Linked DNA regions of Homo sapiens: region 2 is reported to be linked to region 1. The links are microRNA targets in miRTarBase. Many come from high-throughput screens and were not tested one by one. Region 1 holds a microRNA gene; the other region holds the end of a gene's coding sequence.

What was found. The annotated mature microRNA hsa-miR-183-3p reads GUGAAUUACCGAAGGGCCAUAA and lies in region 1 at 3,602-3,623, opposite strand. An mRNA with a match to its seed (bases 2 to 7 or 8) in the 3' UTR can be bound and repressed. Matches are read on the target gene's strand: a 7mer-m8 pairs with bases 2 to 8, a 7mer-A1 pairs with bases 2 to 7 and ends in A, and an 8mer does both.
Region 2: the mRNA of ZNF267 is a reported target of hsa-miR-183-3p. Seed matches in the 3' UTR shown: 7mer-m8 at 3,742-3,748.

The regions. Positions count from the first base shown.
Region 1 is chr7:129,771,327-129,776,699 of GRCh38, forward strand. MIR183 (microRNA 183) reads right to left here and starts at 3,688; the gene lies at 3,579-3,688. It overlaps MIR96 (microRNA 96), which reads right to left and starts at 3,443; the gene lies at 3,366-3,443. RefSeq lists enhancers at 1-180, 1,907-2,768.
Region 2 is chr16:31,915,458-31,920,830 of GRCh38, reverse strand. It overlaps ZNF267 (zinc finger protein 267), which reads right to left. Exons shown (of 4, transcript NM_003414.6): 4 at 3,474-5,373. The coding sequence ends at 4,350. Among named protein-coding and RNA genes, the nearest start is that of ZNF267, 44 kb to the right of the region's middle.

The DNA.
Region 1 (5,373 bases):
GATCTGATTCTCGGAGTGGCATTTCCCCAGACCGCCAGTCACTTACCCAAGGGCAGCACACTTCCGTGTTCCCACTTCCCCTGATGAGGCCAGGTCCTTTCCCAAGGGGTGTTGAAGTGTCCTGAAGGCATCTCAAGCCTTTAGCAAGGGTGCAGGCTGCCTGCCCCCAACCCTGCATCCCCATGCCTCCCCTGCAGCCTGGAAGGGACTCTTTGCCCTCAAGCCTCCTGGGCAGTATGGGCCCACCATGAGCAGGCTCATTTTCCGAACATGCCCCGGCTGGGGGAGCAGCTGACTTGGCAGGGCCCCCAAAATGACACCGCTGCCGCCGCCACCGCCACCACCCCTCCCATCCTGCCTGCCCTTTAGGGTGGAGTGAGATGGGATGATGGCTTAAGATGCAAACAGATCCAGGCCATCCCCAGGGCCAAGTCCAGGACCTCGGTGGCACCCAGACCGGACCGGCAGCCTGGGCTTGGGCGCTGGGGAGGACACCTCTGCCCGAAAGGAGAGGCTTGGTGGGGAAGGTTTGGCCTCTGAGCAGAGGCACGACTCTGGAAGCCTCTCCGAGGGTGGGCGGGCCTGCTTTGGGACATCAGCAGCACTGGGCTCTCTTGGTCCCATGGAGCCCCCAAGCCTGGGACTTGCTGAGGAGGCCACTCCCACCCTCCTCCAGTGTGTATGTGGGGGGTCCTGTCCTCCTCCCCACCCAGCTGTGGCCGCACCAGCCGGGCTCCATCGGCAGCCTGGGGCTGCAGGCGATCAATGGTGCCGGATCGCATTTCGACCCGCCTGAGGCTGGGCAGAGGCTGGGATAATGGCCTGGAATGAATAAGCAAATGGAGTGGTGGGGGAGGCGGGGAGTCTGGAAAACCCACTCATACAGCCCTCCAGGGAGCTGCCCCTCCTGCCGCTCCACGCACCCAGACAGGCCAAGCAAGGTGCCCGACATGGGGGACGCCCTAAACCCGGGCATCTGGGAGCCGCTGCTTTTGACAAACAGAAAAACAAAGCAAAAAGTGCTTCTCAGTGACCCTCCCGCTCCAGCAAGAAAGGCCTTCGCTGCAGTGGGACAGCGTTCCTGCCTGACACTGGACACCATTGGACAGATCATGGGCAGAACCTTTTGCCCATCTCACAGACCTTCTGGAAGCCACACAAGGGAGGATCCAGGACCTGTTCTGCAGGGTGGGGAGGTGAAGAGGGGCCCTCTCCTATCCTAAGTGCCCCCAGCCTGGGTGGTAGGAAATTGTGTCTTTAGGGAGGAGGGCCAGCTGTGGTGGCCCCCACTCTCTGGGACAGTCACTGTTGTGGGTGAACTCACCACCCAGGTCTGGCCCGGAACTAGGTAAATTAGGAGATCTAGAAACTAGCTTTGGCCTGAGGTCCTCCCCTGGAGCGCTGGAGCAGGGCCCCAGAGCAGCCGGGCCTGAAGCCTGGTGGAGGCACGCCCCCACACCAGTGCCTGCACTCGGGGCTCAGCAAAGGCGCCCACCTGGGCAGGTGTGAGGAGGTGGAGCCCAGCTGCAGACCACCCAGGGGCTGAGGGCAGCTTCTGTCATCCGGCCTTCCCCGCTAGGCAGGAAGGAGCAGAACCCTGGCCAGACACTCCAGAGGCTCCAGGGAAAAGCTCTAGAACCGGTCACTGCCAGGGGCCTTCCACCCCCCCTTGCTGGGTCTCTGTGCCCACCCCACCTCCAGGGCTCATTCTCACTCAGGCCGGGAAATCCCTTCTTTCCTATCCCATGGGACCTGCAGCAGGACGCCCTAAGGAAGCACCCGGGGCGGAGGACTGGAGCACAGAGACAGGGTGCGGCACAGGCCAGCCAGGTTCCGAGGGGCAGAGGGAGAGCTGGGGCCATCAGAAGAGAGACCTAGCTACAGGGACACCTCACCAGGGCAGAAGTCCCCTTCTATCCTGAAATAAACAAGCCCCTCCTTTTTTCTGCAGGGGCTTGGAGAGCTTCTGTAGAGAAACACGGGCACCACACCCCAGAGGGAATTTATTGGGGGCTCCTCGCGGTTTGGTGATAGCTAACTGACAAGAAAAAAAAGGCCCAACCCACCCAAGGCAGTCCCCAGGGCACCCAGGCAGGCAGCACTGGTCACCATGTTCCTGCTGTGCAGTCAACTGGACCCGTCATCCTCCAGCTGCCAGCTTCAACCACACACATCCCCCACCCGGGCACTCCCTGGCTCAGACACCTAAAATGACTCCCACTGATCTGGGCTAAGTCCACCAACCCTTGCCTGAGGCTCCCTGGGGAGAAGCAGCCCCATCAGGGGCTGGCCCAGTGACCTGGGGCATGATAGCTCCCAGCTGGTCCCAAGTCGGCCACTGGTCTCCTGCTTGATTGCTGACCACCAGATTTCACATGGGTCCAGCCTGGCTGGCCAGGCTCTCCCCAGCTTTGACAGACTAGGTCCAGGCCTCCCAGCCTCAGTCTCTGCCATCTGGGGCATCCTTGGGAGCCCAGGCCTGTAGATTCAGAGCTGAGACACCTCCAGGCCCTGGGTGCCTCCATGGAAGGTGTGGCTGGTGGCGGAAGAGCCACAGTGACCCAGCTCTACCACTCACCAACCTCTTCAGCCAAGCCTTTCCTCTCAAAGCCTCAGGTTCCCCATCTATGAGATAACTATTTTAAAAAATTACAAGCCCCACAGGGCTGAGGTGGGAACTGTTGGGATTATATATGTAATGTCACCTGACACCCAGATGGAGAGCATAGGCCAGTTAGTCATAGCCCAGATCCAGGGACCCAGGAAGCTACATTACCAGTGTGTGGTGTGTGAAGGGGAACATTGGCCTCTGCTCCAGAACCTTCTAGGGGCAGGCCTGAAAATGCCCTCCAACTCCGAGCCCCACTAAGTATCCTCCTCTTGGAGCTGTTCGGAGATGACCCACTCCACAGCAGGCTACAGCTCCAGAGACGGTAGCCCCCCTGGAAACACCCAGGCTGACCTCAAGGGCAGCCCACCTGCCTGGAGCTGCCCCCTTCACAACCTGCAGCAGAAAAGACCAGGCCCTGTGCTGCCAGCCAAGGTCTCACCCCAAGCGTGTGCTGGGAGCCTGGCTGGGCCTTTCCAACCCACGGCACCATTCAGGATGGCCCTACAGATGGTTTCAGACTCCCCCACCTCTGCCCTGGGCGGCCCCATCTGCTGGCCCAGCTCAGATTGCTGGGCTCCCAGCTCTACCGTGGCCCCAGGCAGTGTAAGGCGATCTGGCTGCCCACCAGCGCTGGGCCCTCACACAGCAGCTGAGCCAGATGGGCTGGGGAGGCGGTGAGGAGGCCTTGAGGAGGAGCAGGCTGGGGCCCTGACACAAGGATGCAGGGGAGGCGGACGCAGCTGCGGGTCCTGCTTTTCCCATATTGGCACTGCACATGATTGCTCAGAGCGGAGAGACACAAGCAAAAATGTGCTAGTGCCAAAATCGGCCAAGCAGATGGCACTGGTGCGGGCTCTCTGGGGACACACTGGACGAGGGGCCTTGCATCCCTGCACCCTTGGAAGCAGCCTGTTTCCGACGTCTAGGAGCACTCAAGGCAGAAGTGGGTAAGGTGCTCCGGAGGCCCTCGTGGATCTGTCTCTGCTCTGTTTATGGCCCTTCGGTAATTCACTGACTGAGACTGTTCACAGTGAATTCTACCAGTGCCATACACAGAACAGGAGTCACACTCTGCGGCCTGCCGACCCTGCGGAGAGACCAGCGGCCCACGATGCCCGTTCCCTGCTCCTAGCCTGCCCACTCCCTTGGGGGCCCCCCAGCAGGCCCTCAGCAGCGGCTGCTACGGTCTCTACCCCCCACCCCATCCCACCTCTTCACAAGATCCACATGCCCCATCAGCCCAAGATGACCTTCAAGGAGACAGGGACAGTGCGGGAGAGGAGCTGACCTTCTGGCCTTGCAGAGGAGAAGACCACACCAAGGTGTCTCCTATCTCCACCTGAAGGCCCACATCCCTCCACATCACCCAGACTGCGCCTCCAGGCTGGGGAGGGAGTGGGTCAGGACCATCCATCTCCTTGCCAGAGTAACTCTGGCTCGGAGAGGCAAGCAGCTGGCCAGAGCCTCCTCTCTACCCAACCTGCCACAGGGGCAGTGACCAGTGGGACATCCAAGATGCCTCTCGTAGCCTCTGAGCCCAGACACCAGCAGCCCAGGCTCCTAGGCACTTTGGTCTCCATTATCCTCCACCCCCCAGCCTGCCCTGTGGCAGAAACAGAGCCCCAGGAACAAACCGAATCTGCTGCTCACCCCCACTCCCATCCCAAACCAGACCAGATTGGGCCAGACTGTGAACCGCCCAGGCTGGGCATCTCTGCTGCCGGCCTAGGATCAAGGCAGGAAAAGGCCAGGAAAGGAGGGCAGAAGAGAAGTCCTGCAGCCACCCAGGTGGCTTGGAGGGAGCCGGAGGCACGGATGCACTCTAGCAAGGGAGTGGCTCCTGGCTGGCTCTGGAGTGACTGCGGAGGAAAGCGGAGGCTCAGGAGCGAGGGAGGGGCTGGGAAGGTTGCATCAGTGGTTGCCAGAGCAGCTGCCTAGAGAGAAGTTGCTGTGGAGGCCCTGCCTCTGGTGTCACAGGCCCTGGGGAAGGACGGGAAGAAGGGAGAGGGTGGGAGGGAGGGTCTCTGGGGAGCTGGCACCCAGGGCAGGCAAGCTGGGGCCTCCGCAGAGTGGCCACTAGAGTCTCAGCCTACTCCAGGTCAGCGGTGGCCCAGAAGGCAGGGTGGCTAGAAAATATCCTGGAAGGGTCAGAGCAGGTGCCCTGGCCCAGAAACTATGCAGACCTCTTGGCGATGTTACCCCCAGGAACTACCTCCCGTGGACCTCAGAGCTCCATCTGGGTACCTTGGCCAAAGCCATCCGCTCTCCCCTAGACACTGCTTAATGCTCCACCCTTCCTGCTCCCGAGGACTCTTTGTCCTGCTCCCACACACCCCCACTACAGGGCTCTGCCCTTCTAGCTGGTCTATCTCCCCAGAGGACAATCCAGCTTGATGAGGTGGTGATCTCAGGAAGTCACTCCTCAGCCTTCTGCCTCAGTTTCCCTTACTACAATTTTCTGAACTCTACTAAGGAAGAGAGACCAGACTTCCCAGCCTTGGGTGGGGAGGGGAAGGGGTGATGGCAGGGTGTTAGCAAAGAGTATGGGGTGGGTAGTTATGAACATTGCTTAGGGTGTAGCCATAAGCATCACCCAAGGAGCCTGTTGAAATGTAGATTCTTGAGCCTGCCTGGAAATCTGCATTTTAATAGCACCCTGACAGCTCAGCATGGGGTGGGGGTGGGGGTGGGAAGATCTATTTTGAGAAATCTTTCCCAAGAAGCCTCACCCTGGGATAATTAAACAGAATGCAGAATTCTTC
Region 2 (5,373 bases), not on the chromosome of region 1:
ACGTAGTGTGTTTTTTAGATTACTGGCTTCAGGGTGGAGCCACTTAATAAATAAAGCAAAGGAAGCATGCAGTTTTTAGGGCTTAATATTTAAATATGTGCAAAGCAGGAGCAGCTGGAAGGCATAACACTTAGATTCTCCCAAATCAAGAATCCCATTTTTACATTGAATTCTGAGCCCCCAAAAGAAATGCCATGCCAGAGGACTGGGCAGTTCAATGATTCCATAGTGCACCTCAGTAGAGGGACATTCATTTGAGGTTGGTAGGCAATCCTATGCCAGCACACACTATGATTACTGCATCCCACATGGGTGTCTTACCCCTCGGTGGGGTGGCTTGGGGGCTGTTTCTGTAGCCTCTACATTCTAAACCATACTTTTTCTATCCAAACACCCAAAGAAATAAGCAACTCCCTAGAGTAATAAACATTTACTGTAAGCGACTGCTGTCAGCCCTCTAACACCATAGCTCTTGCCAGTGACTCACCAGCAATTACATCCACCTAGTCAAGTTCTCTCATAGTACAATGTAATCTCTGGTATCCCCCAAAGCCAAGGAGATCAAGTAATGCAATACAAGAAAGAGCAGAGTGTTAGACCTGAGAGGGATCTCTCTGCTTACAACTCTGAGGGCCTCATGAGAAAAAGCAGTTTCCTCCCAAGAGGAGGAGACTGTGACAACTTTTCTGTTTTCTGTGATTCTAGGCTAGAATTCTGTTAGAATTCTTTTTTTGGGGGGCGTTCCCCTCATGTGGCATTTGGAGTGGCAAGAGGAAGGACAGACAGAAGTAAATGGAGAAACAGAATTCATTTGACTTTTACAGAGAGAGGAGATCTTAAAACCATGCATATGTGTATGTACGTAGAGTAAATATCAGTTTTTATTAAGTCAACTTTGGACTATAGAGCTCTTTAAAAATCCTTTTCCTAACTGTAATTCCTACTCAAGTCATTATACTTTTGCTGCTAGCTGGACCTCTGTAGCCAAATGAGCAGCCATTACACCTTAGTCGCTGTTCAACACCCTTCCTCACTGCAGTGTGATAGACCACTCTCAGATAACAATCATGCTAATTCTGCCAGAAGTATCCTAACTAGAGGCCCTATCTTGAATAAAGGCCAGGTAAAGCCAAACCTATGGCCGGGCACAGTGGCTCGCACCTGTAATCCCAACACTTTGGGAGGCTGAAGTGGGCAGATCAGCTGAGGTCAGAGATTCAAAAACAGCCTGGCCAACATGGTGAAACCCTGTCTCTACTAAAAATATATAAATTAGCCGGGTGTGGTGGCGGGCACCTGTAATCCCGGCTACTCGGGAGGCTGAGGCAGGAGAATGGCTTACGCCCAAGAGGCGGTGATTGCAGTGAGCCGAGATTGCACCACTGCAGTCCAGCCTGGGCAACTCAGCGAGACTCTGTCTCAAGAAAAAAAAAAAAAAAATGCCAAACCTGCTGGATTACTTTCCGAGGGGGCTGGGCACTCTTGGTCACAAGATGTTTATGGTTGAAACACTGAGTTAATGATGTTAATCAACTAAATAAGAACTCAAAACTTAAGAAAATGTCCCAGTACTTTAAGAAAAAGCATTATTAGTTTAAGTATGTTTTGCTTTAAAAATAGTACTCATAAATTCTTGCTGAAATCAATAGTAACATAGAAAAGTAACAATACTAATAGCCTGTCATAAGCTGATTAGAATCCTCTGTAATAAAGTATACCATTCTTAATAACCTATATAACCATTTGAAATGGGTGCATTTCTCCTCTTGCTTTCTGAGGAAGGCCTACTCTAACAGAGGAGCTTTCAATAAACTATCTCTTCTCATTGCAAGGCATTCCTCTTCCTGCTTTCTGAGGATGCCCTACTCTGTAACTGAGTAGTCTCTAATAAACTTTACTACACTCTGCAACTCACCAAGAATTCTTTCCTGTGTGAGATTCAAGAACCCACTCTTGGGGTCTGGGACAAGATCATCACATCTCTTCTAGTGACTCTGCCAGGACTTGAATGAGGTGAAGTCCCAACTCAAAGGAATGAGGTCCCAACCCAAAGGAAACAGACTCTGCAGCACCAATGGGCTGACGCAAACTCTAGTTGTAAATTTTTGACAAATAAACCCTTACGACCTTCACCTAGTTTAGAAACAGAACATTTTCATCATCTTCAGAAAATTCACTCGTGTTTTGTCCCAGGCACCTATCTTTTCTTCCTCAGCCAGAGGCTATCAATGTGTTTATTTCACCATAGGTTTATTTTGCCTGAAATAATACAATACATAAATATACAAAACACAATTTTATGTCTACCTTTTTTCACTTACGAGGTCTATGAGATTCATATAGGGTGTGAGCTTTAGGCTGAGTTGTATTCTGTTATATGAATGCTATGCAATTAATTCAAACCACTGCTTTAACCCAACATCTTTTGGTGAACTACTTACAAACTGGCTCTCAAATGAATGTAAAACATTTGCTGCTAAGTTGTGGCCTTTCAATCTTACCTGCCTTATCTAATCATTATTAAGATAGTCACTATGAGAAAACTATTCTCCAAATTATTGAAAGTTTAAGTCCTCCAGCAAAAGGAATATTAGGGAAGACATTTCACTGTTAACCCATAGTATATTATTTCCATCTGTTAACCACAATCTTAGATAAGATGGAATAGTTTAACACTGGTGTCAGTACAACATTTCATTCATTGTACATCAGTGTTAAAACATGAAAAACCAACTCATTTTATTAAAAGAAATTAAGTTCACCCATAGTCTACAGCATTTTAAAATCCACTATATTCTTCCTGGTCAAAATACAGTTACAAGTACTCAAGAAGCATTCTTTTTTTCCAATATACTAATCTTGCAGTTCTGTTTTCTACGTTTTTTTAAAGTGAGGCTAATTATTTAGTGAATGTTGATAGGAATTATCTTCACATTTCCCTGATACAGGTGAAGATGTTATTCTCATCACATCAAATACTCAACTTTTTCACTATGTATTCTATCACATCAAATAATACTAAAGACTCCTACTTTATTCTGTTTTAAAGATATGTTAGTACTTCAACTCAGTGGTCCTAACCTTTTTGGCACCAGGGATTGGTTTCATGGAAGACAATTTTTCTACAAACTGGCAAGGAGAGAGATGGTTTTGGGATGAAAATGTTCTGCCTCAGGTCATCAGGCATTAGTTGGAGTCTCCTAAGGAGCACACAACCTAGATCCCTCACATGCATAGTTCACAATAGGGTTTATGAAAATCTAATGCCACCACTCATCTGAGAGGAGGCAGAGCTCAGGTGGTAATGCTTGCTCACCCACCACTCATGTCCTACTGGTGCAGCTCAGTTTCTAACAGGCCACAGACCAGTAACTGGTCTACAGCCTGGGAATGGGGACCTCTGCTTTAAATGAAGTCTTTTTAAAAAAAAAAAAAAAAAAAAACTTATGGAGGAATTGAAGTAATTTCAAAAATTCAGAATATCCCTCTTACTTTAATATAGAAAAGAGCTCTAAACACGTATATGTTTACATGCATTACTACTTTATTCAAACACAAAGAGCATATTTTTAAAAATTTTCATGTGTTTTACATTTGGCATTAAACTTCCATGAAAAATGCTGATATTAATGATATTAACGTAGAATGACCTCACATTGTTCTGATGCAGAAAAAAAAACAGAACACATATTTTCACATGAACACCACGGATTAAGGAAAAGCAGCAACAGATTTGAAAGCTGAATTATATAAATAATATTTGCTTTCCAAAAACCTCAAATACTGTAAATACAAATGAAGTATCTATGAAATATACCTGTCAAAACATCAATGTTCTTGCTACTTTAAAACATATAAGCAAATAAATTATCTAATTATTTTGCCTTTAGATTATTCTGTACAAAAAATACTCTTATTTAGTATAAAGGCTGAAAGTGTCTGTGCTTTAGTCCTTTCTCACATAAATTCTCTGACACATTTAGACTTCATTTTTTATTAAATACTTCCTCACATTTATTGCATCTGCAAACTTCCTTTTTCTATGAACCCCTAGGTGACTCATAAGTTTGATATTTTGAATAAAACTTTTCACATTTTTACATCTATAGTGTTTCTCTAGTATGGATTATCTTGAGTAAGGGTTGAGCACAGTTTAAAATAATTTGCCACATTTTTAATATTTGTATGGATTTTTTCAGTTTATATTCTCTGCTATTGTGTAAGGCTTGAAAATAGTTAAAGGTTATGCCACATTCTTAACATTTGTAGGGTTTCACTCCCATATAAATTATCTGATGCACAATAAGACATGGGTAACAAGTAAAAAATCTGCTCCATGTTTTACATTTTTAAAGTTTTTCTCTAGTATGACTTCTCTGATGTGCAATGAGGTATGACCTAGAGTTAAAGGCTTTGCCACATTCTTCACATTTGTAGGGTCTCTCTCCACTATGACTTCTCCGATGTGTAGTGAGGTATGACCTATAGCTGAAGGCTTTACCACATTCATCACATTTGTAGGGTCTCTCTCCAGTATGTCTTCTCCGATGTGTAGTGAGGTATGACCTAGAGTTGAAGGCTTTGCCACATTCTTCACATTTGTAGGGTCTCTCTCCAGTATGACTTCTCTGATGTGTAGTGAGGTATGACCTATAGTTGAAGGCTTTGCCACATTCTTCACATTTGTAGGGTCTCTGGCCAGTATGAATTCTCCGATGCTGAATAACATCTGAACTATAACTAAAGGCTTTGCCACATTCTTTACATGTATAGGGTTTCTCTCCAGTATGAGTTCGCCGATGCACAGTAAGACCTGAGGAGTCACTAAAAGATTTGCTACATGCTTTACATTTGTATGGTTTTTCTCCAGTATGAATTCGATGATGTCGAATAAGGTGTGAACTATAAGGAAAGGCTTTGCCACATTCTTTACATTTATAGGGTTTCTCTCCAGTATGAATTCTCTCATGCACAATAAGATTTGAGAAACAAGTAAAAGGTTTAGCACATACTTTGCATTTGTAAAGATTTTCTCCAGTATGAATTTTCCGATGTTGAGTAAGGCAAGAACTACGGCTAAAGACTTTGCCACATTCTTTACATTTATAAGGCTTCTCTCCAGTATGAACTCTCTGATGCATAATAAGATTTGAAGAACGAGCATAAGATTTGCTACATACTTTACATTTGTAAAGTTTTTCTCCTGTATGAGTTGTCTGATGTTGAGTAAGGCATGAACTACGGTTAAAAGCTTTTCCACATTCTTTACATTTATAAGGTTTCTCTCCAGTATGAATTCGCTTATGTTTAGTAAGGTATGAACTACAGCGAAAGGCTTTGCCACATTCTTTACATTTGTATGGTTTCTCTCCA